3 separate regions of the Homo sapiens genome follow, and all the other regions are linked to region 1. The links come from fine-mapping of genetic effects on gene expression. A gene starts in region 1. Each other region holds a variant in brackets. All regions are shown on one strand. Distances are from middle to middle. Region 1 holds the start of BCAR3 (BCAR3 adaptor protein, NSP family member). Region 2 overlaps BCAR3 (BCAR3 adaptor protein, NSP family member). Region 3 overlaps DNTTIP2 (deoxynucleotidyltransferase terminal interacting protein 2).

Region 1 (10,402 bases):
GCTGGGTGTGATGGCTCACGCCTGTAATCTCAGCACTTTGGGAGGCTGGGGTGGGTGGATCATTTGAGGTCAGGAGTTCAAGACCAGCCTGGCCAACATGGCGAAATCCCGTCTCTACAAAAATACAAAAATTAGCCTGGCATTGTGGCGCACACCTGTAGTCCCAGCTACTTGGGAGGCTAAGGCGGGAGAATCGTTTGAACCCAAGAGACGGAGTTTGCAGTTAGCTGAGATCATGCTACTGCACTCCAGCCTGGGTGACAGAGCGAGACTCCATCTCAAAAAGAAATATATAAATAAAAATAAAAATAAAATAAATGTTTAGATGAAGCCTGGTTGTGGACTTGAAGAAGTTTGAATTCTAAAATTGTTTATAGCATGACCAACATCCAGGGGATTATATTTATTTAGCCTATGGGGAGATTTATGATGTAATATAAAGGTGAAAAGCCAAAGGAGTTCATTCATTCAATAAGTACTGAGTGCCAGGCCCCAAACTAAGAACAAAACAAAGGCAAAACCAGATATAGATCTTAGAGTCTATAGAGCAACAGGTATTCAACAGCAATAACGGAAATGAATAATTACTGGCTGTGACAAATTCCAGGAAGGAGAGGGTGCTGTAAGGCACATTTAACTGGGGAACCTGACCTATGCTGGGTGTCAGGGAAGGTTTCCTAGGGAATAGAACATCTGGTTATTTAGTTTGTGGTACCTGAGTCTTCTCACCAGTAAAATAGGGATACTACCCTCTTTGACTCACAAAGACACTATAGCAAGAGTGGTCATGGACAAGAATGAGCTTTGAAAAATGCTCAGCGTTTCTAAAACTGAGTTTGTCCCTCCAGCCAAAGGGAGCTGTTCTCCAGCTTTGACATCTGTTGCCAAGCCAGGCAGTTACTCAGGCACTCTGACTGAAGACCTTTGATAATTCTCCTCCACTCTGCCAAGCAGCAGGGGTCAGACAGACCTGGGGTTAGCTTTGGTTCTGCCATTTAAATCTCATTTGAACTTGAGTAAGTTTCTTAATTGGTAAAGTCACTTTTCTCATTTGTGAAATGGGGCAAGTATCGATTAATGGCTTAAAGCTTGTAAAGCACTTAGCATAGTAGTTGGCATGTAGTTACTTCTAAACCAAGTACAGCTAATGTTATCGTAATTGTTATCATTGCTAATTATTAACTTTTTTTTTGTAATGGGGCTCACTGTATTGCCCAGGCTGGAGTGCAGTGGCTATGCACAGGCACAATCATAGCATACTATAGCCTCAAGTTCCTGGCTGAAGTGATCCTCTACCTCAGCCTCCCGAGTAGCTGGTACTACAGGCATGCACCACAGTGCCTGGAGCTAATTAATAACTCTTGTCAATTATTTCTTTGTAATAACTTTGGCCTTTTACCTCTATTCCCACCAGCCTAGAGAAAGCCCTTGTCATTTGGCAAGAAGTGATTCCATAGCCTTCTGATCAGTGCCCCCAACTTGTCTCTCACTTCTCTAATTCATTCTACTTGCTTCCTAAAATAACAGTATTTTGCATATGTCACCCCTTTTAATATTATCATTGAAAAATATGTGAAGCTCATAGCACAAAGAGCTAAACTTCCTAATGTGGAAAGAGGTCCTAGATAATTGGTAAGAAAAAGACCTACAAATGGGTAGAAAAACAGGAATACAAATTCCAAAAAAGAAAAAAAAGTCTACTAAACATGAAAATATAAGCATCCTCACTTATTATAAAAGAAATGTAAATTAAAATTACACTGAAATTCATATTTTACTTATCAAGTTGACAAAAATTGAAGGGGTTATTAATAACACCTTCTGGCCAAGCTGTGGGGAAATAGGCATTTTCTTACATTGCTGGGGAGTAGAAATTGGTACAATCCTTATAGAAGGCAATTTGGCATTATTTATCAAAATTACAAATGCATATACCCTTGGACTCAGCAATTTTACCTCTGGAAATTTATTTTACAGAATACTTGCACATTTTATTTATTGCCATATGGTTTGTAATAAGAAAGGATTGGAAACAAGCTAAATGTTTGGTAAATTATGGTTCATCTCTTCAAAGAAATGCTATGCAAAAAAGAATGAAGAGAGTCCCTCTGTACTAATATATGAAAATCTCCAAGATATATTAAGTGGTTTTTAAAAAGCAAAGTGTAGAACAATGGGTATAGTATGTTACTTTTTGTGTAGGGAGGGGGTAATAACACTCGCACACACACATACACACACACACACACACATAGAAACTCTGGTAGGCACATACAATATTAATAGCAGTACTAATAGCAGTACTTATTTCTAGTGGGAGGGGGTCTGGGCAGATGGGAGACAGAGGTAAGAGGGGAACTTTTCACAGGATACCTTATTATATAGTTTTAACTTGTGAACCATACTGCAATGGTTCTGTGAATACTACCTAGTCAAAAAATTATATTTAAATTACTCCCACTATTAAACCATTAACATATATTGAGCATCTACCATGTGCCAGGCCCAGGGGATACAAATGTGAATGTGGTTGTGGTTTGATGGAAAGATCCACTGAACTTAAAATACCTGATTCAGGTCGGGCACAGTGGCTCACGCCTATAATCCCAGCACTTTGGGAGGCTGAGGCAGGCAGATCACTTGATGTCAGGAGTTCAAGACCAGCTGGGCCAACATGGAGAACCCCTGTTTCTACTCAAAATACAAAAATTAGCTGGGCATGCTGGCACGTGCATGTAATCCCAGCTACTTGGGAGGCTGAGGCAGGAGGATTGCTTGAACCCAGGAGGCGGAGGTTGCAGTGAGCTGAGATCACACCATTGCACTCCAGCCTGGGCAAAGAAGCGAGACTGTCTCAAAAACAAAAAACAAAAAACAAAAAACACCTGATTCAAATTCAGATTCTGCTTCTCACTAGCTATGCATCTTGGCACACAGTAGGCATACGACAAGTATTTATTGAATGAATTTATGGTTGAAGTTACTTAACCTTCCTGAGTCTGTTTCCTCCCATGTAAGATGAGGATAGAGATGCCTCCTATCTCTCAGGGATATTGTGAAGACAAATGATAGAATGTGTCATCAATTCTAGTGATAATTAATGAAACCTGCTATGTGCTAGGCAGTTTCACATCCATTATTTCCTTGACTTCTCATGGAAACCTGTGAGGTGGGCATATATTCACTTACTCATGAGGAAATGGAGGGACTGAGGGGAAGAATGGCTTGCCCAAGGTTTTCTTCTGGTCTTTCTTTATTGCTACCTCCCCCATGCTCTGCACTAGAAACTTTGTAGGTTATGCAGTAGATACTGTATAGTAGGTACTCAGGGAACTTTGAAAATCAAGAAAAACTAATGTTTTTCCACTGTTCTCAGTGACACCTCAGAGCAACAGAAAATCAGTAAATGAATTTCGGATACTTCGATTTAGAAATATACTAGCTGGTCTGTTTGACATTCACTGCACTAAACACTTGGGGGAAAATACAACAAAAATCAAATATTCATGCTTCTAATGAAGTAGGAAGGATAAAGACTAACCCACAAAAACACTCATAAGCGAAAGGTACTCATTCTAAAGGATGCTGCACTTAGAATCTTGTAGACTTACCAACAACTGTTTCTAAGAGGGATTAAAATGGTACACCCAATACAGTACAATTAAAAAAAATTTCTTTGGAGTAAAACATACAAGCAGAGTCATGCACAAATCAATTGATTTTTATAAACTGAAGGACAGGTGATTTTTATAAAATGACATGGATTAATAAATAGAATATTATCAGCATGCAGAAGTCACCTCTGGGATCCCTTTCTGTCATAATCCACAGCTCAATATAACCACTGTCTTCACTTTTAACATCACAGATATGCTTTGACTATTTTTGAAGTTTATGTAAATGGAATCATATAGTATGTACCCATTTGCGGCCAGCTTCTTTCACTCAATATCCTATTTGTAAGATTCACTCATCTTGTTGAGTGTAAATGAGTTCATGCATTCTTATTACTATGTTGTATGTTACACAGTTTATCTCTCTTCTGCTGATGGACATTTGGGTTGTTTTCTTTTTGGCCGTCATAAAGAGATACATTATAAACATTTTTCAACATCTTTTGGTGAATATGTGTATACATCTCTGTTGGGTGCACACTTAGGGGTGGAATTGCTGGGTCATAGGATACATGTTAATTTAGCTTTTCTAGATAATGCCAAGCAGGTTTTTAAAGTGGTTGTAAAAAGTTCATTTTGACGAGCAGTATGGTCAGGCCCTTTAATTTTAGTCATTCTGGGTGGTATGAAGTTAGATCACATTGAAATATCAATTTGCATTTTTGGGATGGTTAATAAATTGAGATATTTTCCATATGTTTATTGGCTTTTTTGAGAAATGCCTGTTTGTCCTCTCTTGAGGACAGTTGAAATATTCTGCCTGTTTTTAATTGGATTTTCTGCCTTATTCTGGCTGATCCGTAGGTGTTCTTTATATATCTGTAAACAAACCTTTTTTGGATGTATGTGTTGCAATTATGTTTTCTCACTCTGCGGTTTGCCTTTTCACTCGTGGTGTCTTTTCATGAACAGAAGCTCTTAATTTTAATCTTGTCCAATGATGAGTTTTTTTTCTTTATATTAGTACTACATGTGTTTAAGACATCGTCTTTGTCTACCCCAAGGTAATGAAGATTTTTTTGGACATTTTCTTTGGATCGTGTTATTGGTTTACTTTTTACCTTTAAAATCCATCTGGAGGCCGGGCGCGGTGGCTCACACCTGTAATCCCAGCACTTTGGGAGGCCGAGGTGGGTGGATCACCTGAGGTCAGGAGTTCGAGACCAGCCTGACCAAAATGGTGAACCCGTCTCTACTAAAAATACAAAAATTAGCCGGGCATAGTGGCGTGCGCCTGTAATCCCAGCTACTTGGGAAGCTGAGGCAAGATAATTGCTTGAACCCGGGAGGCGGAGGTTGCAGTGAGCCAAGATCATGCCGTTGCACAACAGCTTGGGCAACAAGACCGAAACTCTGTCTCGAAAAGAAAAATTCCATCTGGAATTGACTGGGGATGGGGGGATTCAGTTGATCCAGCATCATTTACTGGAAAGAGAGAGCTAATCTGACCCCCAATACAGCACAGCAGCACCTGACATAAATCAAGTGACCACATATTGTAAATCTGTTTTTGGACTTTATTCCATTGGTCAGTTTGTCTATCCTTCTACTATTTCTATGACTTTATAATGGATCTTGATATAAGATAGTGTTAAGTCTTTTCCAGTGGGCTCCAATTTTTCACCCCACCAAATCATCTAGTGCTGAAGTGCCACCGCCAACTCGCACTTTGCTTTCAATACGTCCATACGAGTGCAATTGATTTGCCTGTTCCCGTGGATGGTTCATTTGTGGTTACCTGGGGCTTTGTCTCATCAAAGCCCTTCACATTGAAAGCCAGCCAGGTGTCTGCAGACGAGCAAAGCAGATCTGTTGGGTAATTAAATAACGCGGGGAAGGGGAAGGAGTGGATTCGACGAGGCTGTCTCTGGAGAGAGCTTCAGAAAGGAAGTGATCGAGCTATACTTGAGGACTGGCTCCTTGGGGAGATACGAAGAGAGCCAAACTCTAAAATCCGGGCAGAGGAGGGCCTGGCTAGGTCACCGAATGTAAATGTCTCGGGGGGTTCCGCAAGGCAGCGCGAATCGGCTCGCCGGGGTGGGGCCGCGGAGCCGCAAATCACCAGTTGAGGGCCGGAGTGCGCGCCGCCGGCTCAGAGCTGCGCCTGCTGCTGGCCGGGCGGGGGACGGGGCCGGGACCGGAGCCGGAGCTGCGGGGCGCACCGGCTAGACGCGCGCGGGATTCTCGGCGGGCACGCCCCGCGGACCATGAGCGTCCCCAGCTCCGGGAGCAGCCGCGGCGCGGGCGGTGCGAGGCCGGCCGCGCGGCGCCTTTGAGCCCCAGCCGGAGGTCCAGAGATCCTGAGAGCCCGAGCGCCCAGCGCCGCGCCGGGAGGTGAGTCTCCGCCGCGCGCCCAGCGTCCTCGGGGTGCTGTTCCTCCCGGGGCGCCTGGGCCTCCCCCACCCCGGTGAGGACACGCTAGGAAGTTTGTTGGACAAAGTTAGGCTCTGGGGAAAGTAGAGCCGGCGTTTGTTGGTCCCTACCCACCCCCGCCAGCGGATTTGGCGTTGGGGGCGGGGGTGACTGAAGTGGGGCTGGGGCTTGCGCTCTCCAGGCCCTCCGAGCGCGCTGGGACTCCCCGAGACGTGGCCCACGGCGGGGAGCGCTCAGCGATTGGCGGCCAGGCATCTTGCTCGGTGGCACTCGAGCGGCATCTTCCCGGGCGCTGGCCTCGCCCGACCCCCTGCCCGTCGGAGCTGCTCTGCCGGCCACCCCGCCCTGTCCCGCCCGTCCCCTCTTCGCAGAAGCCGGCCGGGGTCGGGCAGATGCGAGGGCCCAGAGCGCTCTGGTGGAAGCCCAAGGCTCCGAGGAGGCGAGTTTCTCCGGTAATCTCTTGGGAAGTTTGCAAAGAAAGCGAAGGAGCCTGCCCTGTAACTGTTGACAACATCTCCCTCCCTCTCTCCCTTTGTTGAGAAAGAATGAATAGTTGGTTGTGTTGCTCCCTCTGCGTCGCGGTGGGGAGAGGCGAGGGAAGGCAAAGGAAGGGAGGGACGGTGGGAAGGAGGTTCCGATAGATCGTACAGCCCAACTGTCCTTACCCACTTAGGCCGCTGAGGGCGCCGCCGCTTTAAAACGGTGTAATCAGGTGTAGACACTCGTCGAGGAGGAGGTTGAGCGGACTCCGAAGCATCTGGCAAGGCGGCGTGTTCCGTGGGGCGGCGGGTCGGGTCATGGTTGGGGTTAACTCGCTTGAAGCAAGGTGCAAAGGAGAAAAACCATTTTCCTAACCTCATATCTGTTTTCGCTTAAAGCTGTTAGCTGAGATGGAAAGTAGAGCCGTGCATTCAGATTGTTTTAAACCTTGACTTTATCTCCCAAGGCTACACAGACCTCCCCAAGGAAAGTACGCTGGCCGAGGGAAGGTCATTTTGGGAGCTGATAGCCTCCCTTGTGTTGCCTGGGACTGAGTTGAGATCCTGGAGGCTGGGAGAGGCCTCAGTGCTGGGGGTGGGGCCCAGCTCAACACAGGTCCAAGTGGGAAGGGGCTACCCGGGTAACAATGGGAAGCCCACAGGCAAAGCGCTTGTCTGCGGGCGTGCCAGGGGGTATTGAGGATAACGTAAAGACCTTGCCAAGCCAGGGGATCCCACACCACTCCAACTCCAACTTTCTCTAAAGTGCTGCTGAGAAGGCTGGCATTTCCAGGATGACTAACCAAGGTCTAAATCTCCTGTTCATATAGGCAGAACTGCTTGTCAAATGGATGCTAATCTTAAGAACCTTATCGGGTAAATCCTGTACTGTGTTGCTTGAAATACAATCCATGGAGGAATTATTCATACTTGAATCATTTGGCTAGACTTCATAAGTTTACTTCAAAAATAAAGAGATACTCTTAATTCCTAAACCCAAGCAAAACTTCATTTTAAGTGGATAAGCCAATTGAATATGTGTGGTTGTTTCATCTCCTCTCTCCATCTGACTCTCCAGAGAAGTTATAAAACTACAGATCCAAGTTGTAAATTCTCTGTCATGGGGCAGCCGAGACGGTTACATTTCCAGAGTTTAAAATATAATGAAAAGTTCTTAAAGCTCACATCAGATAACCATTATGAGTTAAACTTGAAAATATCCCGTTTCAGAAATAAAAGAGTAAAATCCAAACAAGTGGGCTGCTTATCTCTGCCTCAGCTTGCAAGATCATCAGTTTCTTTGAGACATCATTGTAAAGCAAGTGAGTTGGGCCTCAGTTCACAAACATTTCAAAGCCCAGCGACTGACCAGGCCCAGGAAGGCAGCACATGTGGTAAAGTTTGTCAGCCTCGCTCTTGTTCCTGATGTTCACATGAGTCTCAGATTTTCATATCAAGATGCAGAGTCTTTGACTTTTGTATAATATTTCAAAATCTGGCATTAGACTGAGTCAGGACATTGTGTTTGTTTTCCTGCACAGTAGAGAGAAGTCAGATGGCCAGAGTCTCACCTGGGCTTTTTTCTAAAGACTGCATGTAGGCTCACTTGGTTTGCCTGTACGTGTGTCTGTGTCTGTGTCCGTGTCCATGTCCTACTTGGCTTGGTGTCTTTGCATCTATTGTTCTAGGTTAAAACGTTTCCCTCCCCATCCTTCCCAGTTGCAGTCTTCATTTGTGAACTCTCAGAGTTACTTCCTTTGTGAACCCTCAGTATAACAGAGATACAGTGACTCTTATCTGACAAGATAGATAAGAGCAGCCCCTGTCCTGCTTAGAGGGGACCTGCTATTTACTAAGTGTTTGCAGTATTTCAAGAACTTTGTATACACAATCACTTTTAATCTTTACAACAATCTTATGAAATAGCTGTTAAGTCATTTTTTAAAATGAGAAACCGTCAGGTTGAGTAACTTGTCCCAGGCCATACAGCTGGTAAGTCAGTGGCAGAGTAGAGATTTGAACCTGTAGATATCTGCCTCCAAAGCCTAGGTTCTGAGTCATACCATTTTATTTTTAAAAAATCAAATGGTACATAAGAAGTATATAATGACTAGGGACATTGAGACAGAAATATTTCCAAGTGGAGAAAACATGGGAGCCAGAGGCTGGAGACTTGGGTTTAGTCTCCATCAGCTGTCATTCCAACCGCTTGTTCCTATGGCAAGACCTTTGCATTTGCCAGATCCCTTGCCTGGAACCCCCTTCAGACCTTTTTTTGACTGGCTCCTTCCCTTGCCTTTTTTCAGGTCTCATGTCATTGTTACCTTTTCAGAGAGGCCTTCCCAGTCCACCCTAATGTAAAGTAGCTCTCCACCCGCAACAGTCATCCTTTGTCAGTTCATCCTGTTTATATTCCTTAGCGTGCTTACAACTTGGATGTTAACTCATTTTCTTGTTTGTATAGGTTGGATTCCTCCATGAGAGCAGGAGCTTGTCTAATTTATTATATCCTTAGCCTTGGTACACCATAAGCCCTCAGAGAATATATATCAAATGAACATTTATTTCCCTTATCTAGAAAAATGGACTGGGAATTACCAGTACTTATGGTCATAATTTATTGTCTGCTTCCTCCAGAGTATTATTAGCTTCATGAGGACAGACCACTTCTGTCTTGTTTAATGCTGTCCCCAACACCTAGCATAGTGCCAGCCATAAAGGAGACCCTCCATGAATGTATGCATTGAAGAATCAATGTTTCTATTGATTGAATGATACTCCTTCATCATCATTGAATTCTGTTTTGCAGGTAAACAATTATGACTCAATTGCTGTGTACCAAAAAGACTCACTAATCCAGTGGTTCTCAATCCTGGCTTCACATTGGTCAATACTGGAGACTGATGCTAATGTCCCGCCCACAGAGATTCTCATTTTATTGTTCTGGGCTGAGGCTTGGGCATCAGGATTTTAAAAGCTTCCCAGAGGATTCTTATGTGTAGCCAGGTTGAGAACCAATGGTTTACGTTTTTATAGTAGAACTCATTCCTTGCTTTGGTCCTTATAGGCTTGAAGAAGCCATGGTAAGAGAGAGCAGGGGTATAATTCATGGGTATTGTATGATTCCTGACAGTTTAAGAGGTACTTCACAGCTGTTATCACATCTGATAATAACAAGTTAAGGGATCTACTCTCTGGTTTAAATATTGCCTTTATGTTGATGATTCCTAAAAATCTCCATCTGCCCTCACTTCTAATTGTGCATACCAGTATCTAACCTCCTCTTAGACCAAATTGTTTGCTGATACCTCACATGCAGCAGCTCCAGTGCTGTGCTTGGTTCCTGCAGGGGTGGGTCCCCTTCTGAAACTAGTTGGCATGTTACAGCATCGCACCACCTTCTGTGGCTGTAGGCTCCTTCCTTCCAGCCAGATGCCTCAAGCTCTGATGTCTCATCACTCTCTCCTTTCTCTCCCTTTACCCAGCTGCTGCCCCAGGTCAGAATTCTTCATTGTTCCTCCATGGGTTTCACCATCAGCCTCAGTAACCTCCCTGCCTCCTTTTTCTCTCCCCTCCAGAACAACCAGAGTCACCTACTTGGGTACAGACTGGGTTCGGTCCTTCCCTTCCAGATCTTCCCTAGCACTTCCAGTCAAGTCCAGACACCTTGGCAGGGCCTTCAAGACTCCATGGTCTGATGCTAACCTAAGTTGCTTCTGGGAAATGCTTCTCGGCTTCACTCGAGCCACAGCACACAACTGGGAATGTCCTGAGCCTGTGGGGTCACTTCCATGCCTTTATGCATCTGCCATCCTCCCGGGAGGCTTTTCCCCACATGTTAACTTTTCAAAATGCTTTGTCTCTATTGTTGCCCTC
Region 2 (10,402 bases), 71 kb after region 1:
GGAGATATTCTTAGAATAAACAGAGAAAACCTCAGGTAACAAGAGCTGTGATACCACAGTGACCTAAGTGTCTTTGGTTTTGTTTTTACCCTGGCTGTGGAGCACTTTATTCGTAATTCTATGTGATTTACATGTCTGAGTTATTTGCATATTACTTTCAGGAATGCATTTCATTCACGATTTCTGGGGGAAGGGTGTCTGGGCTTCGGAGTCTCTTGGCTGACTAATCTCACGAATTTCTGTGCAGGATTTCAGTCACTGCCCCCCTCCCTTTTCTCAGGCCTGGGATGGTGCCTGTCTAGCCTCTTGGGGAGGTTTTTAGCTTGAAGGAATCGTTATTTGCTCTCCAAGGAGAATACCAGGTGAAAATGGCCCATTCTGTGGTGGCTAATGGCCTGATTGATGAGTCATGCTCACAGAACTGCTGGGGCCTGGGCCTGGCTGCTCACACGGACTTACCCTTTGAACTCCATCTAACGGAAATGAGGGCAAGCCAGAAAACGCTTCCTCACAGGTGCGGTACTGGACCTTCGAGGACAGTGGGGACCCACTGACCAGACAGTCTTCAAGGGCTCTTCCAGCTCAGAAAACCCTTCTGAGTTCTGCCACCTTGGTGCTTCCTTCTAGGTTCTCTGGTGGACTTTCTGTGGCCTGGGAGCCGTCAAGACTGCAGACCAGACCTCCAGAGTCAGAGAGGAGAATGAGTGAGGGAGGAAAGCAGAAAGGAAGTCATCGCCCACACTCGCTGTGGCAATAGCGCCTCACTTAGCAGCTCCATCCCCATGTTGACACGTTGATGAGGCCGGGCCCTTGCCCTTGCGTGGGTGTGAGACTGTGGCTCTCCATACCTGCTCACTGGGCCCAGAGCAATTTCCTATTTTTGTGGGCAGACTTGACCTAGTCCAAAGGCCAAGGTCTCCCGAGGATTTGACGCTAATCCCGTTGGATATTTCTCATACCTCCCTCATGCCTCATCTGGTATTGTTCCTTTCTGGACTGAATAGATCTTGTTTCTTCCTCATTACAAGTTTCTGCCTGTGTGAAGTTTTAGAAAGCTTCAGGACACATTCCATATTTGAGGCCGAAGCCACAAAAAGTTAATATTTGGAGCGGTAGGATAGGAGAGGAAGAGCTACAGGCAGAAATCTGGATTTGATTAAAAAAAAAAAAAAAAAAAAAGAACTCGTTGAGCATCCGCTATAACTGGAATGAAGGGAAAAGCAGTTAGTTTTCCCTAAAGGTGTTATGTGGCTCTTGGTAGGGGTAGAGGCCTCAGGTCGCAGGGAATCCAGGAGGGCCTTGCTTGGCTGCGTTGGATGCGAGGTTTGTGTGCAGGATCTAGGTTACGCAAAGTGGGTAATCAGAGTGGCGATGAGTAATTAAAGTGAAGGATTTAAAGGAAGGTATAGGACAAACAGTTGAGTCAGAAGTGGGTACACAGTCCCCATCCTCCCAACAGGTTGCACAGCCAGGTGGGAGGGCATAGGGCGCTCAGGGTGTTTGCTGACAGACTTGCTAATTAAACACCAAAAGGCAATATTGCTTTGCCAGTAGTGATGGCTGTGCCAACGTTATCAGCTGCAAACTGGCTGCCAGGAGCATCTTAATTAAAAATAAACAGCTCTGGAGGTGGGCTTGGGAGAGTGAGGACAGGGATCCTGCCTGGGTTACTTAGTACATCTAGTATTTCTCCTAGGGAAAGTCACTTTTAGGCCACCTCCTTTCCTCAAAGGAGCCTCTGTTCATAACAAGGTGGTGTGAATGTACAACTTACCCTGCTTCCTTAAACCTCTGGGTGCTGGAGTGACAAGCAGACAGAACCACTAGGAGCAGGTCGCATGGTACAGTTCAGCCCCAGAAGGAAATTCTGGGTCGGGGGAGAGGGGCTGCTAATGATTTCTGCCTGGTCTCTAAATTGAGGGGACAGCTAAAGCCCAAGGCCTCTTCTAAGAGGGGTTAGAATTTCATCAGAAAGCAAGTCTGGTCACATGAGAATTTCTGGCACTGTGTGCATGGCAGGCTGGACACCAGCCTGCGAGAATTGAGCGAGTGGATCGTATTGGCTTCAGCAGAGGGGAAAAGTCCCAGACTAGCCTGGGAGAAGGAGCCGACTCACTCCCCCGGCTGCCGACTTCCCTGACTTCTGGGCAGAAACAGCACAGCTGCTGTGGTGGGCTAGGGCTTTAACGTCCGAAGCCCCCTTTCTTTTAACCCTAAAGAAAGTGTGTGGTCCCCGGGACTGAAGACCGAAAGATGCCTAAGGAATGCAGTGCTTTCCACGCCCTCTCAGCAGCTCTGTGCTGCTTCTATCACCGCAAGTCTTTCATTGGAGTCAAGGTAGGTTTGGTTTGGAAATAAAGTACATCTGTCAATCTTTTGGGGGACCCTGAAAGCATGAGTTTCCTAAAGGGCAATAGATAAAAGTTTGCAGCTTGCTGATTGTGAAAACAGAGGTGCTTTCTTTGACTGATGGGTCTTCAAGAGCCCCTAGTGGTGTACCTCCCCTGGAAGCAGAACCCAGTGGCACAGAACAGGGCTCCTTGTCTGTTTTGGGCTGAAGCTGTTTTTCAGGACACTTTCAGTTCTCTGTAGGCTGAAATTTTATACTAAAGTAGCTCAATAGGACAGAGCTATTTTTCTTCTTTCTCTCTTTGTCTCTCTTCCTTCATTTCTAACGAACACAAGGTAGCTGAGCCCTTTTCTCTGTTTATCCTGCTGGTCCATTACTTATCAATAATGTACATAATGTACAGAAGCCACACAATATTTCCTTTCAAATTGCAGCCAGGTTTCAAAACATCTCAGGGTTCAGAACTGTTGTTGTCTTTACTGCTCACATTTTAACATTTGTTATAAGACACCGGTGCCAAGAGCTTTGTATAATATGTCAATACACTATTTTGATGAAAATATTCAGAGAACCTCCTTTGGCTAATTCAAGATGAGGCCTGTGTTCTATTTGCCTGCCTGTGACGCACTAGGAATTAAGATTAATATAGGCTTTCGTGGATCTTGGGGTTTGTCTGCCTTGGAAAAAGCCTGTCGGCCCCAGCCTGACTGCGGACCTCGTTTATTCCTGGGAAATTGGACTCTGAAAGCTCTCAAGGAATCCTTCCCACCCTGAAGCAGAGCTCCCTCTCCTGTGGGACTGGCTCATTCATTACCTTTGAAAAGGCTGCAGCAGGGTTATGATGTTCTGCTTCTTTCTTCTCAATACGCTTTTAAAAAAATCAGGAAAACTACCTGTTAGTGGGAGAAAACCTTTTTGTTTAAAAATATACAGAGTGGGAAAAGGGTGAGTTTCCATTGATTTTGCTCCCTGGTAGGAGTGTTCATTTTTGTCCCTTTGTCAAGAAATTTGACAGAGGATGAGTAATTAATCATTGGTTAGAAGCATTCCCTTCCTGACTTGAGCCCCTTTCTGTCCTGGAGCCCAGTGAAGTGATGCGAGATCCATGTGGTTTCTGGCCTAAATATGGATCGTTCAAGTGTGGGGCAGATGAAGTCATGCCATTAACAGTATTTTAAAGCTTCCAAGATAGACTAGGAGGTCCCAAAGGGTATGGTGCACTTCGGGGATTGGCAGTGGGTTTCACTCTAATAGAAGTCCTTCCACAAGCCAACTTCTGCTAATTCAGTGAAGTGCAACTCAGCATTGGGTGTATGAGGGAGTCAGCCTATAAATATCTGGGTCTGAGGGATGAGTTTCTGTTTGGGTACCTGTTGGTCTGCAGTTACGGCCCCAAGGCTACATAATATATAGAAAAGGCCACTTAATATATGGGGTAGTCGGGTCCAGCTGTCCTTCAGCTTGTGCACTCTCTATCTCTCCACCGTGGCCACTCTTGGTGGTTGACTGTGGTAGAAACACCCTTCTTTCCGCCTGGACTTCTACTCTATTCCCAGTTTGTCGAAGTCTTCATAGCACAGAGAGAAGGCCTGAGCTGCTCACTCACTGGAAACTGTAGCCCTCGGTCCCAACTTAGGGTTTACCAACTGCACCCTCAAGATGAGTCTCCCTGTTTTGTTTTGCTTAGCTAGTTACTTGGGAAAGAAATCTGCTTGTACTTAATCCCCCATCCTGCCAGTGGTGCCCCAGTTGATAATGCCGAGTCGCTTTATTGACTCCCACTTTAATTAGGGGTTCCAGATCTTGCTGCTCATAATTAGTTTCCGTTGCAATTAGAGTTTCAAAATTAAATTGGGATTGATTGCCTGATAGCAAAGAGGAAATAAAGCTCCAATTCTTGACCATGTATACTGCTTCTCTTGGCATGAATTTCTCATACCAAAAATAACACTGCGGTAGCCATGGTAACTTTCCATTTGGTCTAATCCATATCATCTCTGGAGAAAGTACGATGGTATTAATAGTGTTTGCTGTATGGGAACAAAACTAAAAATATAGAGGGTCCCTCCTTACATAGGAGAATGATTATACAGGTGTTTTTAGAGAGTAAGATCTTATTTGCAGCGGTCTTACAGAATTTAGGATGTATTTAGAGGCCTCATACGGACTTGTGTATAAAGACCTTGGAAAGGAATTAAATGGGAGGCCGAAAATGGAGAGAAGGATCAGGGATGTGCTGGCCCTCATAGAGTTGGGGCCAAATACAAGATGTTCCAGCCATGTTGAGGGTCATGACTTTAATATCCCGAAGGGGTTCACAGTAGACAGCCGTTACATAAAAGACTACTGGATCTTTTTTCTGGGGGAAAAAAGACGAAAGTGTTTTATTTAAGCCCAGTGGAAAGAAACTTGTAATGGAGATATTCCAGATCATAACATTAACAGACATATTCAAGTTCTAAAGTCCATGCGTGTTGAATGTAGAATGGGTGTTGAATGTAAAGTCCATGCATAAGCCCTCTGTTAGGTGGGGAGGGATTTGTGGGAGGTGTGGGGCAATAAATGAGATTTGAGGCATGGTTCCTGCCTTCAAAGACTTACCACAAGGATATTATTAGGTCATAATATCACTTCATTACATTTGCAAAAGACTTTCAAATGTATGAGTTCTTTCACATCTTGTCTCATTGGAGTCTCAAAACAAGCTCTCTATGCTATGAAGACTTCAACAACTTTGTCTCACTGGAGTCTGAAAATAAGCTCTGTGAGGTGAGCAGGGCAATAATTTACCCTTTCCGCAGAGGACACACCAAGGCTCAGAGAAACAGCC[C/T]GCCCAGAATCATTTCGTGGGGAACTAGGAATAGAAAGCAGATTTTCTGGGCTGAAGCCTAGTGCTCTTTCTTTTTTTTTTTTGAGACGTAGTTGCCCAGGCTGGAGTGCAATGGCGTGATCTCGGCTCACTACAACCTCCGCCTTCTCCTGTCTCAGCCTCCTGAGTAGCTGGGATTACAGGCACCCACCACCACACCTGGCTAATTTTTGGTATTTTTAGTAGAGACAGGGTTTCACCATGTTGGCCGTGCTGATCTTGAACTCATGACCTCAGGTGATCTGCCCACCTCGGCCTCCCAAAGTGCTGGGATTACAGGTGTGAGCCACCATGCCTGGCTGCTAGCGTTCTTTCTACTGTACTATATTAAGACAATTGACGCCTAAAATAAGATGATATTGTGTATGTTAATACTTTATTTTGCAGTTCAGTTGGGAGAGAACAGTGTGAGCCTTAGTTTTTAGGAAAGCTTCAGGGAGGATGTGGGACTGTTTTTGTTTTTGATGTTGTTGTTTGTTTGTTTTTAAGAACAGGTAACCCCTTTTAAATTTTTCTCCTTTTTTTAATAACTGGGGATTTGGATGGACAAAGAAAAGAATGGCATAGGGACGGCATTTCAGCCTGGGGGAGCAGCAGACCCAGTAGCTCAGAGATAGAAAAGCCACTGGCATTTGCAGGAGTGCAGAAGGCCAGGCCTGCTCAGAGCAGAAGGTTCACTGGGAAGGTTAGTGTGTGACATGGTCAGAGAAGTCACAGAGGATCTAGGAATAATCCCAGCAGCCAGGCCTCCTGTACCAGGGGTTAATAAGTATTTGAGGCACATTTCCCCATTGGCTTTCATCCCATTGCATCCTTAGTTCAGCTCAGCAGTCACCGGTTGTGGTACCTCGGATGTGTCGGTGCTGGGGACCCAGTGGGAGTTGTTGGTCCAGTGGGGATCTCTGCTGTAATACCATGCCTGGTGGGCATTCTGCAGACATTTAACTCTGGTTGAAGGAAACGATCGGTTATCACTGATTTGGTGTTGCTCTCTTTAGAGGGTGCTGTGGCTCCCTGGAGGCACATGCCTGGCATAGATGGGGCAGGAGTGGCGAGGATCAGGGATGGCCTCCTGCAGGGAGGCAGAGCCTTTGCTGAGTCTGGTGAATTAGTCGAAGTTATCCAGAGAAGGAGGAGAATTGGCCTTCTTCGTGGAGAGAGGAGCACGCACAAAGTGTAGAGACGTGGAGTACCCCGGTGTGGGCAGGCAGGGAGGCATCAGCCTGGAAGGGGAGCACAGGGAGTGGCCGCTGGCAGGCCCGCCCCCAGGTCCCTGGTGAGCTAGAGGAGGAACTTGGTAAAAAGCACAATGGGTCACATTTCTGGGGCTGGCACTGGAAACAAACCCCTACCTCTTCTGGCCCCTTGTGTCTCTGACTGTTAGTAACTTATTTATTTAGGTATTTTTGTGGACAGGGGACAAAGGAGCTGAAACTTGTCACTTTGTCAATGTTTGCGCCTGAGGAAGGTCAGGGGTGCCTGTGTCAGAGGAACCTAAGAGACGGGAATTACCTTGCAAGGGCGGAAAAGCCACCTTTCTGAAAGAGCGCAGATAGAGAGGTTGGGGTGTGGTGCCTGTGGATAGATGGAATCAGTAAGTCTCAGCTAACCAGGCCTTAAGTCTAGTGGCCATGGTCTTGTCAATGAGCAGCCACAGAAGGCAGGGATGTTAGACATGTGCTTTCCTAGACTTATATTCGACTGTCTTTGCAGCCAGGAAGTGCTATGTAGTATTGTTTCTTTTTTGTTTTCCTTTAAAGTCATTTCCCCTACCCTGAAAAAAATATCTGGAGCCTCTTGGAATCCATATTACAGCCTGAGGAGTCACATCTGCCCATCCTAGAGTGCCAGGCCCCTGGAACTTGGTTTCATGTGAAACTGTCTTTCTGTGGCGGTGCGTGTGTGTGGTGCAGCAGAGGCCCTGCTCATCTTCCCTGTGGCTGGTCATTTGGTCTGTCTGTTACGGTGACAGCTTGGGGACTGGTGACACATCCCAGCATTGACGATGGCCTGAGTTGCCTTTGTCAGTGGGGCAGATGCACCATCAGCACGAGCTGCGCAAGGTGGAAGAAGCCTTGCAGGAAATGTCTTTCCAAGTAACTCAGCCCCTCCTCGTGGCAGCTGCTAGTTGCTCACTTATCTCTCCAGCCCTCCAAAAAGAAAGGACAGTGTAGCTTTTTGAAAGAGGCTTAAATGCATTCCATTGGCATCTGGTTGGGTGGGATCTGGTTTCAATATCAGGGGAAAGACATGCTTGACAGAGCCTGTGTCCCAGGACCCGGTTCCCTAGCAGACCCTGGAGCTGGGATCCTGGCCAAGAACTTGTTTTTGTTGGAGAGACCTAAGTGGGAAGCAGAGACGGGATTGGGATCTTGGGAAAATTCTGTTAGTGGATTCAGCACCTCCAGGACTGCAGAGGGATGGGCCATGCTAAACACTGGGGAGGACGCTGGAGGCTTGGTGTGCTCCGACCACAAAGGTCTCCCCGCACAGCCTGCGCGAGAGGTCAGCAGTGCACGGGGGACCCAGGCCTGTTGCTGGGTTTAAAGATGTTGTCAGTGATAGCTTGGGGGCCTTTTAGCTGATGGGTATCTTGGGTATCCCCAGGAACAGCAGAGGAGACTCAGCCTGTCCTGGTTGGGAAGGAAAGGAGAGCCTCAGGAGGTTGGACACCATCTCTGGCCTCAGCTGTATTTCCAGTGTGTGTCCACAGTGCCAGGAGCTACTGTTGAAATCTGGCTCTGGCCATGAGAATCTTATGGCCTATTTTTCTGTCTAGCTCATGAAAGTGCTATGTTTCATGTCTTTTAGTTCTTGTGGAGAAGAACTCTCCCCAGTGTCTACTCTAGATATGTGTGTGCTTTTACAAAAATAGTTATGTAGAAAGGACTGATGAGTAAAATCTGGATTCTCAGTAAGATGAGATTTGAGGAACTATCCATCCAGCCTCTGACTCAGAAGCCATTGATTCATCGCCCTTCCCCAGCCTACCCCTAGCATGTGCACTGAGGGCCTACTAGGAGGGGGAAGACAGAGGTGAACATTCCGCCCGAAGGAGCTCTGCTGTGTCTGGTGGGCGGATGGAGATACAAGCAGCTTACGCTGTGCTTTGTGGTGGGTGCAAAGGCAGGAAGGATGCACAGCCTATTGTGAGATCCAGGGAGAGGTCTTTAACCCAGCCCTGGATCAGGGGACTTCCTGAAGGAGATAACACTGTAGGAGCCATAGGGACAAAAGGCACAGGAGAGGGAAAGAGCTTCCTATACGGGAGCTTGAGGCTGAAGCTGAGGAGTGGAAGGAGATGAGCCCATAGAGGTGGTTGGGGAACAGAGCATGCTGGGCCTTTTTTTTTTTAAGGGCAGTGGGGACCCAGCAAGTGGCTTGGATGCGGAGTGAGTGAGAGCTTGGGCGTTGGACTCTATGTGTGGGATGAGTTTGAGGAGCAGCAGCAGCATCCCCCTAACTCATGCCTGTGTCCTCCCTGGGCCCCTGAAGCCTCCCATCTGTCCTGCTTGTCCTAGTTCAGCTCACCCTAATTTTCCTCCCTCCACCTTCTCTTCAGGCCTTGTCCTTCTAACTCTCATAACGAGATCGTGTTTCCTCTTAGCTTAGAAACATGCTGTGGTCTTTCCCATGTTAAAAACCCTCCTCGTTTCCATGCTCATTCCTGGTCCCCATCTTCCTCCACCCCGAAGCTGGTTAACAGTCTTTTTAAAATTATTGATCTGGGGGTGCATGCACAGGTTTGTACATGGATATATTGCATAGCGGTGGGATTTGAGCTTCCAATGTACTCACCACCCAAATAATGAACATTGTACCAATGGGTAATTTGTCAGCCCCTCACTCCCTATCCCTCCGCCCCTCTTTTGGAGTCCCCAGTGTCTATTATGTCCCTCTGTATATCATACATGCATAAACTCTCACTTGTAAGTTAACACAGTCTTTACTCCCTCCCTTTCCATTGGCCACTCAGCCCCTTTTATGCCACCAGTGACCTGCACATTGCCAAGTGCAGCGGATGCTGTCCAATTCTGATATGATTGGAACTCTCTGCAGCACTTGACAATGTTGACCATTTCTTCCTGAAATCAGCTTTCTCAACCTCCAGGACACTGCATTCTGTTTGTTCTCCTGTGTCCTTCCTGTCCAGTCCTACTGTCTTCTTGGGTTTCTCTTTCTAGTCTGCCTCTGAAAAGCCTCCCCCAGCCCTCTTCTCATGCTGTATCCCATCTGTTTGGTGAAAGTTGGGATAGAATACCCCTCTATACTGAGGACTCCCAAGCCGTAGTTCTCCAGATAGGCTCTCCAGTCAACCTATGTCCATAGCACCTGGACCCCATGGCCCAGTAAGTGACTCCATCCAGAAGGCCCAGCAGACCTTAGTTCTACATCTTCTTCCACAAACCCACTATGCCCTCGTGCATTTTTATTGGATGTTGGTGGCTCAGTCATCTTTCTGGAATGCCCATGCCCCTTCCTCCTATTCATTTTCCACATGTAATTAATGAGTAGGTCTTCATGATATTACCTTCTAAACACCACTCTCACCTGTCTCTTTCTTTCTGTCCCTACCACCACCCTATTTTCTTGTGAGATGTAAACATTCTTGCTCACTGTTTAGCCCACAGGAATGCTGTATGAACTCATGAGATCTGAGTTGTATTGGGTTGAGTATCTTGTGTCTTTAAGTCCAGTTTCTGGTTCTCTGTTTCTCTGCATGACATGTAGGATGTTTGCTGTTTGCATTTTTTAAAATGCTTGTTAAATGAGATATGTGGGTATCTAGTGCTTTGAGCTCCTCTAGAAGGAATATACCTTTAAAGTGACCTGTGAGTTGTATATTGAAAGTGGTGCAGTTGATGTCTGGCCAAAACCCATCTTGTGATGAATCATTTTGTTTTACTGCAAGCCTGCTGCGTACTTAGCACTGACATGTGATGCGCTTTGTCCCAGAGCAGAGTTCTAAGATGGTAGTTAGTCATGGTACTATTTTGGAGAGAGAGAATTTGAAAGTCATTTGTTCTACACCCCACGCTGGAAGGCTGTCTGAATCTTTGGCTTTTCCTCCATGTGTTTGGCATATCTTGTTTTTCCTTCCAATTACATCTTTGGGTGTCTTTCAACTACGGTGCATTTTGTTCATTCAGTACTCTCCTTTTCCTAATTCATCTCATTCATTC
Region 3 (9,699 bases), 180 kb before region 1:
TGTTTTTATCCCTCAAAAATGTTTAAAGCATTTGATACAGCCTGGTGGATGGATATAGTGCATATATAGATCATATATGGATATATGGATAGATAGATGGATATAGTGCATATAGTAGGAAAGTCTTCCTACTACAGTTGCCATTTTTTCTCCCTAGATTGCAAGCAAGTGCTATGAGGTCAGAGACTATACTTGTCTTGTCCACCACTCCATTCCCAACTTTTACCCTAAGGTTATATTAACTTCTAATGTCTGATATATCAAACATAAAGTTCTGATTTTTCTTTTTCAGATACAACCGAAGGAAGTACTCAGAGATCATGGCTGAAAAAGCAGCAAATGCAGCAGGAAAAAAGTTCCGAAAGAAGAAGAAATTTCGCAATTAAGATTTACCAAGCAAACTGCAACATTTTACATTGCTCCTTTATTTACTTATTAAAGACGTTTGGAAAACTAACACCATCATCTAAATTAATTTACCATAGACTGGCCCTGTTCATACAGGAATTTGTATTTGGAAAAAGTTGATTTGAGAATCGATTACATGCCCTTAGAAAATAGGGGTGTCTAAAAGACCCACCCTGGTGTAGACTCTTTATGGGAAAAAAGGAAAAAAAATCTCAACCATTTTAAGATAACTGATGGTTTGTAAAGTTTTCAATGCTTAGTTATTTAAAGAAAATTTAATTAAAAGATAGGAAGTATAAAGTTTGCTAACATGTTCAAAGAACTTTAAAAAATGATCAAAGATATATAAACATTATTGTAATTAATAGGTAGTTTTATGTGTGTATGTGTGTGTGTGTCTGTGTAGGGGACGGGAGATGGTAGAGAGGCAATGCCCTATAGTTAGCTATAAAATTCAGATCCAGAAAGTTGGGATACAAAGATATGAAGAATATGACCTAGAAAGCTTGGGCAGAGGAGCTGTTTTCCTTGCTTGGCAACTGAAACAGGGAGGAATAATTGGTTTTTATCTAGATTTAAGTGTTGTGGTCCAAGTAAAACAGGATTAAACTATAATTTAAGTTGGCCAGGGTTTCTTCGAAGTTAACCCAGCTTACCTCTTCTCCAGTGGTACAGTATGCACCCTGGCTAAGCTGGTTTCTGGCACCCAAGGAGTGTTGGTCATTTCTGTTGATACTTGGTGAGTTGTAGCTTCCTTTATGTTACTATTCACTTTACCTCTATTTTTCCAGCATACTGCTTCCTTGAGATATCAGCAAATATGAAATCTTTTTTTTTTTTAATAATAGTTTTGGGGTACATGTGTAGAACATGCAGGTTACATAGGTATACACGTGCCATGGTGGTTTGCTGCACCCATCAACCTATCTACATTAGGTATTTCTCCTAGTGCTATCCCTCCCCTAGTCCCCCACCCACAACAGGCCCCAGTGTGTGATGTTCCCCTCCCTGTGTCCATGTGTTCTCATTGTTTACCTCCCACTTACGAGTAAGAACATGCAGTGTTTGGTTTTCTGTTCTTGTGTTAGTTTTCTGTTCTTGCTGAGATGATTTCCAGCTTCAGCCATGTCCCTGCAAAGGACATGAACTCATGCTTTTTTATGGCCACATAGTATTCCATGGTGTATATGTGCCACATTTTCTTTATCCAGTCTATCATTCATGGGCATTTGGGTTGGTTCCAAGTCTTTTCTATTGTGAACAGTGCCACAGTAAACATACTTGTGTATGTGTCTTTATAGTAGAATGATTTATAATCCTTTGGGTATATACCCAGTAATGGGATTGCTGGGTCAAATGGTATTTCTGGTCCTAGATCCTTGCGGAATCACCACACTGTCTTCCACAATGGTTGAACTAGTTTACACTCCCACCAACAGTGTAAAAGTGTTCCTAGTTCTCCATATCCTCTCCAGCATCTGTTGTTTCCTGACTTTTTAATGATTGCCATTCTAACTGGCAATGAGATGGTATCTCATTGTGGTTTTGATTTGCATTTCTCTAATGAGCAGTGATAATGAGCGTTTTTTCATGTTTGTTGGCTGCATAAATGTCTTCTTTTGAGAAGTGTCTGTTCATATCCTTCACCCACTTTTTGATGGGGTTTTTTCTTGTAAATTTGTTTAAGTTCTTTGTAGATTCTGGATATTAGCCCTTTGTCAGATGGATAGATTACAGAAATTTTCTCCCATTCTGTAGATTGCCTGTGCACTCTGATAATAGTTTCTTTTGCTGTGCAGAAACTCTTTAGTTTAATTAGATCCCACTTGTCAATTTTGCCTTTTGTTGCCATTGCTTTTGGTGTTTTAGTCATGCAGTCTGCCCATACCTATGTCCAAAATCTCATATTTACTGCTTGGAGTCAAAAGCTAGTAATAGCAGAACTGACAATAACATTCATAGTTGGAGTTAGGGAAGCATCTATGTCTGTTCTCTTTTATTTTAAAAAAAAACTACTTTTGTTTCTGGAATACTATGTTTTGCCTTCTACTGGATAAAATAAGGACCCAGTATGAGAGAATTGTATCCTTTAGTGCTTCTGGCCTTCTACAAATACCTGGATATTTAAATAATGGATGAAGTTATGTTTTGCTTTTTAATAAGCAAGTCTTTTGAGAAACAGGTTTTACTGACTTTGGCCTGTGTCACTAAACTCAGTTCACCTACTGGAACTTTTTTTTTTTTTTTTGAGACGTCTCACTCCATCACCCAGGTTGGAGTGCAGTGGTGCCATCTCAGCTCACTGCAACCTCCGCCTCCCAAGTTCAAGCGATTATCATACCTCAGCCTGCCAAGTAGCTGGGACTACTGGGCATGCCATTATGCCCAGCTAACTTTTGTATTTTTAGTAGAGATGGGGTTTTGCCATCCTTACCTCAAGTGATCCACCCGCCTCGGCCTCCCAAAGTGCTGGGATTACAGGTGTGAGCCACCATGCCCAGCCAACTGGAACTATTTGAAGGCTTTATACCAGAAAAGTATAAAGAATCCAAAGGGCTGCCACAGTCAGGTGTGCTGGTGAAAGAGACCTTCAAGATACCCCTGAGAAGATCTTGAAAGATTTCGAAAAGAATGCTGTATTTATACACCATCTGGCTCCAAGATGCTTTTTTTTTTTTTTTTTTT[G/TG]AGAGACGGACTCTCGCTCTGTCGCCCAGGCTGGAGTGTAGTGGCATGATCTTGGTTCACTGCAACCTCCGCCTCCCGGGTTCAAGCAATTCTGCCTCAGCCTCCCAAGTACCTGGGATTAACAGGCACCCACCACCACACCCGGCTAATTTTTGTATTTTTAGTAGAGACGGGGTTTCACCATGTTGGCCAGGCTGGTCTTGAACTTCTGACCTCAGGTGATCCACCGGCCTCAGCCTCCCAAAGTGCTGGGATTACAGGCAGGAGCCACCACGTCTGGCCCAAAATGTTCTTAAAACAAAGTAGATGCTGTAAGACTACAGTTGATAAAGTTGGGCTCTGGGCTAGGTTCTTAGCATCCAACACAATCAGTTCTGTGTTCAGTGTTCTGCTGTATGATAAACCAACTGCTCTAGAGAAACACCAATATTCCTCTTCTGAAACCTGGGAAAATGTCTTTTTTGGGTCCCATAACTAGATGTCACAAAAGGAGTGGGGAGTGGGGAGGCTATATAAAAAAGTTCAACAAAACCTTAGTAACTGGTATACATTAATAGGATCCCATTCTTAGAAACAGCAAGTTAAAGAAAATACCATAATGGGAAAAAAAAGTTAACATTTCTGAGAGATGTACCAGGTATTCAGTCTCTCAGGCAGTGACAACTTGTTCAGAATAATTACCTACAATAGATCCCAAACCATTGAAAAATGCCTAATTGTTTACTTAATGGAATTTGTACTTACTATTTAATTAGATGAATATCTTTATTGAAAGTTTTCAGTAAGGGTTGCAACAAAAAGGGCTTTCTAATTAACCAATTCCCCAAGCATCTGTCTAATTAAAATGTAAAGTGCAATTATTCTCATTGTCACATAGTTTTTGAAGTGAAGAAAAATCTTCCAAGAAGTAGGATCAATACCATGACCTATAATTAAATGTCATAAGCGGATCAGTGTTCTATCACTGGAGAAATGAGACATCTCCAATGAACTATGAAATGTAAAATTAGGTAAGTTTGTGCATAGAGGATTTCTAGGAGGACATACAAGACATACCTTCAAATCAAGATGGCCCTGTAGTTCCTCAAGCTCAATTTTATCAATTCCAGTTACCCTCATTTCCAGTTCACTTTAGCGAATCACTATCATGGCCTTAGACTCGTTGTTTGAGAATTCAGTGGTCAAGATTCTTAACTCAGACTACCCCAATTTGTATCTTGTTATCTGTTATCCTGTTAGTCTTCCCTTCAGTTGTCTCCAACTTAGCCTTGGCTGCAATTTGGAATTACCTATGGTGGCTTCAAAATGCTGATGCCTGGGTCTCACCCCCCAAACATTGTGAAATCATGATTTCAAGCCTTTCAGCCACTCATTCTCTGAATCCTCTATCCTCATGAAGATACATTTTTCTCCCTAACCAATCTAGACCCAATTCATCAGACATTTCAAAAATTCTTTGTATGCCCCGCTAGTCTCTTTATTAATAGTCTTTTGGTTTCTGTTACTCTCGCCTCACCAATCCCAGTCAGGGAAACACTCACTATTCTTATTCTTACCAGTCTAGATTATTGAGATTCAGGAAAGTATAATGAAGCTATTGACTCAGCTGGGTTTTCACTGCCACTCCACAATCCATTTATTCAATTTTAAATACTTTCTGCCAAATTCAGTCATTCATCCTGCGAGTCAGCTAACACAAATAATTGAGTCCTGTGCATTATATAAGCACTTGGGTACAGCAGGGAAGCTAATGCAGCCTCTACACCCAAAGAGCACGCAGGAGATACAGGACACTTCCATTCTCCCAGAACCCAACTTCCACGCCTAGCCTCAGCAAACTACTTACTCCTCCTCCGCTAAACCAGCCATGGCCATCTGATGAAGGCTGCCTTACCTCCTCATGGCCCCACCAGTCTAGAGAAACTGTTCCTACATACTGCTATATTCAATTTTTTTCTCAGTCTTCATCCCTTCTAACCAGACAATGTCATCTGACACACTGATCTTCCCCTTCTTGAGGCTTCAGCTACTCTGCTTCGGTAGGAAGATCAGCTTTTCTGCTTCTCCTACCTACTCTTTATTTTTTTACTCTGTCCATCACTTAAATTGTTGGTTTCCCTAATGCCTGCCCTCATCTTCTTTCTCGATACTGTTTGACTTGAGTATCTTGTCCTCCCTCTCCTTCAACTTCTGCTCTCATCTCTTCAGATGACACCAGAGTCTCCATCCTTACATCTCTATCCCCCACCCTCTGTTGCAGACTCACATTTCCAATTAACTGTGCAAATTACCCATATGAAGTACTAGTAAGTTATCTCAAATTCCACGTATCTGGAACCAAACACATCATTTTTCTGAGATGATTAAATAAAAACTAGCACCATGCCTAGTAAATAACAAGTACTCAAAGGGAAGCTACTGTTTCCCTTTTCTCCCCCAACCTCCCCATTGAACAGTTTTAATGAGGCCATACTGCATTTTACCTTCTATGGCTCACCTCTGCGTAATGACACATACAGAAACCCTACATTCAAGACCTGACATTCAAGCCCCTCCACAAAATGACGCCACCACAGGTTTATATTCACTGCTTCCCTACTCATGCCCTAAACTTCACTTGTGCTACTTACTTGCCTATTTCTCTCTCAGCTCTTTTCACACCCTTTCTCTGGTCTGCTCTGGAGTGTCTGGATTGCAGGAAACTACATTTCCCAGATTCCCTTGCCAACTGGCTTAACAGTAAGACACTGACAAAAGACAGAGGGGCATGAAGAGGAAATAAACCAGGGTATTTCTCTCCTCTGCCTTGGTTTGGGTTGTGGCCCCACCATGCTCCCAGCCCCCACCAGCCAGATGACTCAGGCTTCCAGGTTCCGGTAACACCATCTCCCATTGTCCCTCTGGCACTAGAGGTGGTAGACGTTTCCTACTGTTGCAGTATCTGCGTTGCCAACACTTTCAGCATTTCTGCCACCTGTGGAACAATTCCCTATATTAAATTCTCTAGAGTGATGTGTTTTTCTGTCCAAACCAGACTGATACATTTCAGCCAAACCAAACTACTTGATACTGAGCATTCATTCAATCAACATATACTGAGTTCCATGCACACCAAGTACCATGACAGGTTCACCTTTTATGTCTTTGTTCATATGGTTAGTTCCACCTAAAATATCTTTCCTGCCTCCATTTCACCTAACAAAATAGTACTGACCTGAAGCCTATTCAGCAACCAATACTTTGAGCATCTCCTCTGTGTAAGGCACCACACTAGGTGCTAGGGGTGCACAGGAAAGGAGGTCATCCTAGCCATCACAGAGCTGACAGTCTACATGCTTCAGAAAGCCTTTTTCAGATTCTCTACACGGATGTATATACTCCTATTTGCCTGTGCTTATTTTTACTCCACTTATTTCTATTTAACAAATGTCTATATAGCACTTATTGTCAGGGACTGTTCTAAGGACTTACACATATAACTTATTTTTATGTTACACTTATGTACCTAAGTTCGTATGTACATATGTAACATTATATTTGTATGTAATAACTTAGGCATTTGGTAAACCTATGAGGTAGGTGCTATTATCCCATTTTATAAGTGAGAAACTGAGGCACAGAGATTAATCTATGGTCACAGAACTAGTAAGTGTAAATCTCTGTCACACTTTTATTCTTGTCTTGAACTACAGCTATCTGCACACCTGTTTCAGCATCACTGGCAGAAATTGCTGGACTTTAACTTTCTTCTGTAGTTACAGGACACTTGATTTTTGGCTGAGAATGTGGCCACCTGGGGGAAAAAAGCTGTAATTCCCACCTTCCTATGGGATGTGAGTAGAAAAAAGTGGTATGTGCAACTTTTAGGAAGTGTCCTTCAAAGATGGATGAGGTTGGAGTAGGGCCCTTCTCTGCCCTTTCATCTCCTTCCCACAAGCTAGTACGTTGACCTGATGGCTCCTGGTATGTTGACCAGAAGCAGCCATCTTGGAGCAGGAGGTGGAAGCTGCATTTTGAGGATGGAAGAATATGCATTTTGAGGATGGAAGAATAAGAACGAACCTGGATCTCTCATGATTAAGTAGCTGCTATTCCCTGGTAGCTGTTATTTCTACATGAGAGAGAAAAAGCCTTTATCTTGTAAAGTCCACCATTATTGTGGGTGTCCTGTCACACTCATAGCTGAAACCAATCCTAATTAATGAAATCACCAATCCATGCTCTCTGTCCCTCACTAGGCTCAACTTTTAAGAATATTCACTCTATCTCACTCATGTTTGTATTTCCTTCGTGCATAGTTCCTCGCACAAACTACTACTCAAAAGTTACATACTGAGGGTGAGTAGGTTACAAAATATAAACTGATGGATGTAGAAGGTCCCAGATAAGGAGGAAATTGATATGAAACCGCTCCTGACCTCTGGTCTTTTAGAATCTGTATTGGTCATAGGCAACAAAAAGGTGGGAGTGTCTCATCCTTTAAGGCAGCTTCCACTTTGTCAATACCTTCCTTAGGTCCTAGGTATGAGTAGAGCTGTAAAAGAGAGCACACAGAAGCTAGGTCTTCAAACATGAACACCTTCAGTTGTCCCCTGTCTACCTTCATGCTTTTATCTCTGCCCCCTTCCCTCTTGCCTCAGAAGGACAGGCATTTTTCTACCATTCTTAGGCTGATCATTTCACCCGACTCTCAGAACATCTTTGCATCTTAACTTTCTCATCTGTAAAATGGGGATAATTCACACTTCTTAGAATTGGGGGATAATTAAATGGTAAGGGTTAAATAAACTTTCTGGCATAAAGCAGGTGTTCAAAAAATGTTAGGTGATTCTCTTTTCCTCTTGACCCCCTTCTCCTCCAGAGGAAACTTGCTCCATTGGTTCTTGGGGAAACACCTCTTCCCTGCATCTCTTCCTATCTCTCTGGACACCCTTTCCTGGTCTCTTGGAAGGACTCATTATTTGCCTGTCCTTCAAATGTCTGTGCTGGGTTTCTGTCTTCTATACTCAGCCCTCTTCTTTTTTTTTTTTTTTTTTTTTTTTTTTTGAGAGAGTTTCGCTCTTGTTGCCCAGGCTGGAGTGCAATGGCGCGATCTCGGCTCACCACAACCTCCACCTCCCGGGTTCAAGCGATTCTCCTGCCTCAGCCTCCCAAGTAGCTGGGATTACAGGCATGCGCCACCACGCCCAGCTAATTTTGTATTTTTAGTAGAGATGGGGTTTCTCCATGTAGGTCAGGCTGCTCTTGAATTTCTTTTTATTTTTATTTTTATTTTTATTTTTTTATTATACTTTAAGTTTTAGGGTACATGTGCACAATGTGCAGCTTAGTTACATATGTATACATGTGCCATGTTGCTGTGCTACACCCATTAATTCGTCATTTAATATTAGGTATATCTCCAAATGCTATCCCTCCCCCCTCCCCCCACCCCACAACAGGCCCTGGTGTGTGATGTTCCCCTTCCTGTGTCCGTGTGTTCTCACTGTTCAATTCCCACCTATGAGTGAGAACATGTGGTGTTTGGTTTTTTGTCCTTGCGATAGTTTGCTGAGGATGATGGTTTCCAGCTTCATCCATGTCCCTACAAAGGACATGAACTCTTCATTTTTTATGGCTGCATAGTATTCCATGGTGTATATGTGCCACATTTTCTGAATCCTGTCTATCATTGTTGGACATTTGGGTTGGTTCCAAGTCTTTGCTATTGTGAACAGTGCTGCAATGAACATACGTGTACATGTGTCTTTATAGCAGCATGATTTATAATCCTTTGGGTATATACCCAGTAATGGGATTGCTGGGTCAAATGGTATTTCTAGTTCTAGATCCCTGAGGAATCGCCACACTGACTTCCACAATGGTTGAATTAGTTTATAGTCCCACCAACAGTGTAAAAGTGTTCCTATTTCTCCACATCCTCTCCAGCACCTGTTGTTTCCTGACTTTTTTATGATCGCCATTCTAACTGGTGTGAGATGGTATCTCACTGTGGTTTTGATTTGCACTTCTCTGATGGCCAGTGATGATGAGCATTTTTTCATGTGTCTTTTGGCTGCATAAATGTCTTCTTTTGAGAAGTGTCTGTTCATACCCTTCACCCACTTTTTGATGGGGTTGTTTGTTTTTTTCTAATAAATTTGTTTGAGTTCATTGTAGATTCTGGATATTAGCCCTTTGTCAAATGAGAAGATTGAAAAAATTTTCTCCCATTCTGTGGGTTGCCTGCACTCTGATGGTAGTTTCTTTTGCTGTGCAGAAGCTCTTTAGTTTCATTAGATCCCATTTATCAATTTTGGCTTTTGTTGCCCTTGCTTTTGGTGTTTTAGACATGAAGTCCTTGCCCATGCCTATGTCCTGAATGGTATTGCCTAGGTTTTCTTCCAGGGTTTTTATGGTTTTAGGTCTAACATTTAAGTCTTTAATCCATCTTGAATTAATTTTTGTATAAGGTGTAAGGAAGGGATCCAGTTTCAGCTTTCTACATATGGCTAGCCAGTTTTCCCAGCACCATTAAATAGGGAATCCTTTCCCCATTGCTTGTTTTTGTCAGGTTTGTCAAAGATCAGATAGTTGTAGATATGCGGCATTATTTCTGAGGGCTCT

Evidence for each region. PIP is the estimated chance that this variant, and not a neighbour inherited with it, causes the effect.
Region 2: its variant is fine-mapped to the expression of BCAR3 in lung (TOPMed, PIP 0.93).
Region 3: its variant is fine-mapped to the expression of BCAR3 in regulatory T cells (Schmiedel 2018, PIP 0.95).

The regions. Positions count from the first base shown.
Region 1 is chr1:93,677,204-93,687,605 of GRCh38, reverse strand. BCAR3 (BCAR3 adaptor protein, NSP family member) reads left to right here and starts at 5,769. Exons shown (of 12, transcript NM_003567.4): 1 at 5,769-6,008. RefSeq lists a silencer at 5,747-6,026.
Region 2 is chr1:93,605,782-93,616,183 of GRCh38, reverse strand. All of the region lies in intron 3 of BCAR3 (BCAR3 adaptor protein, NSP family member), which reads left to right. Among named protein-coding and RNA genes, the nearest start is that of BCAR3-AS1, 19 kb to the right of the region's middle. RefSeq lists enhancers at 78-730, 1,384-2,036, 2,037-2,690, 5,925-6,488. The variant C/T (reference allele first, on the strand shown) is at 5,181.
Region 3 is chr1:93,860,538-93,870,236 of GRCh38, reverse strand. It overlaps DNTTIP2 (deoxynucleotidyltransferase terminal interacting protein 2), which reads left to right. Exons shown (of 7, transcript NM_014597.5): 7 at 293-3,953. The coding sequence ends at 386. Among named protein-coding and RNA genes, the nearest start is that of DNTTIP2, 14 kb to the left of the region's middle. The variant G/TG (reference allele first, on the strand shown) is at 3,094.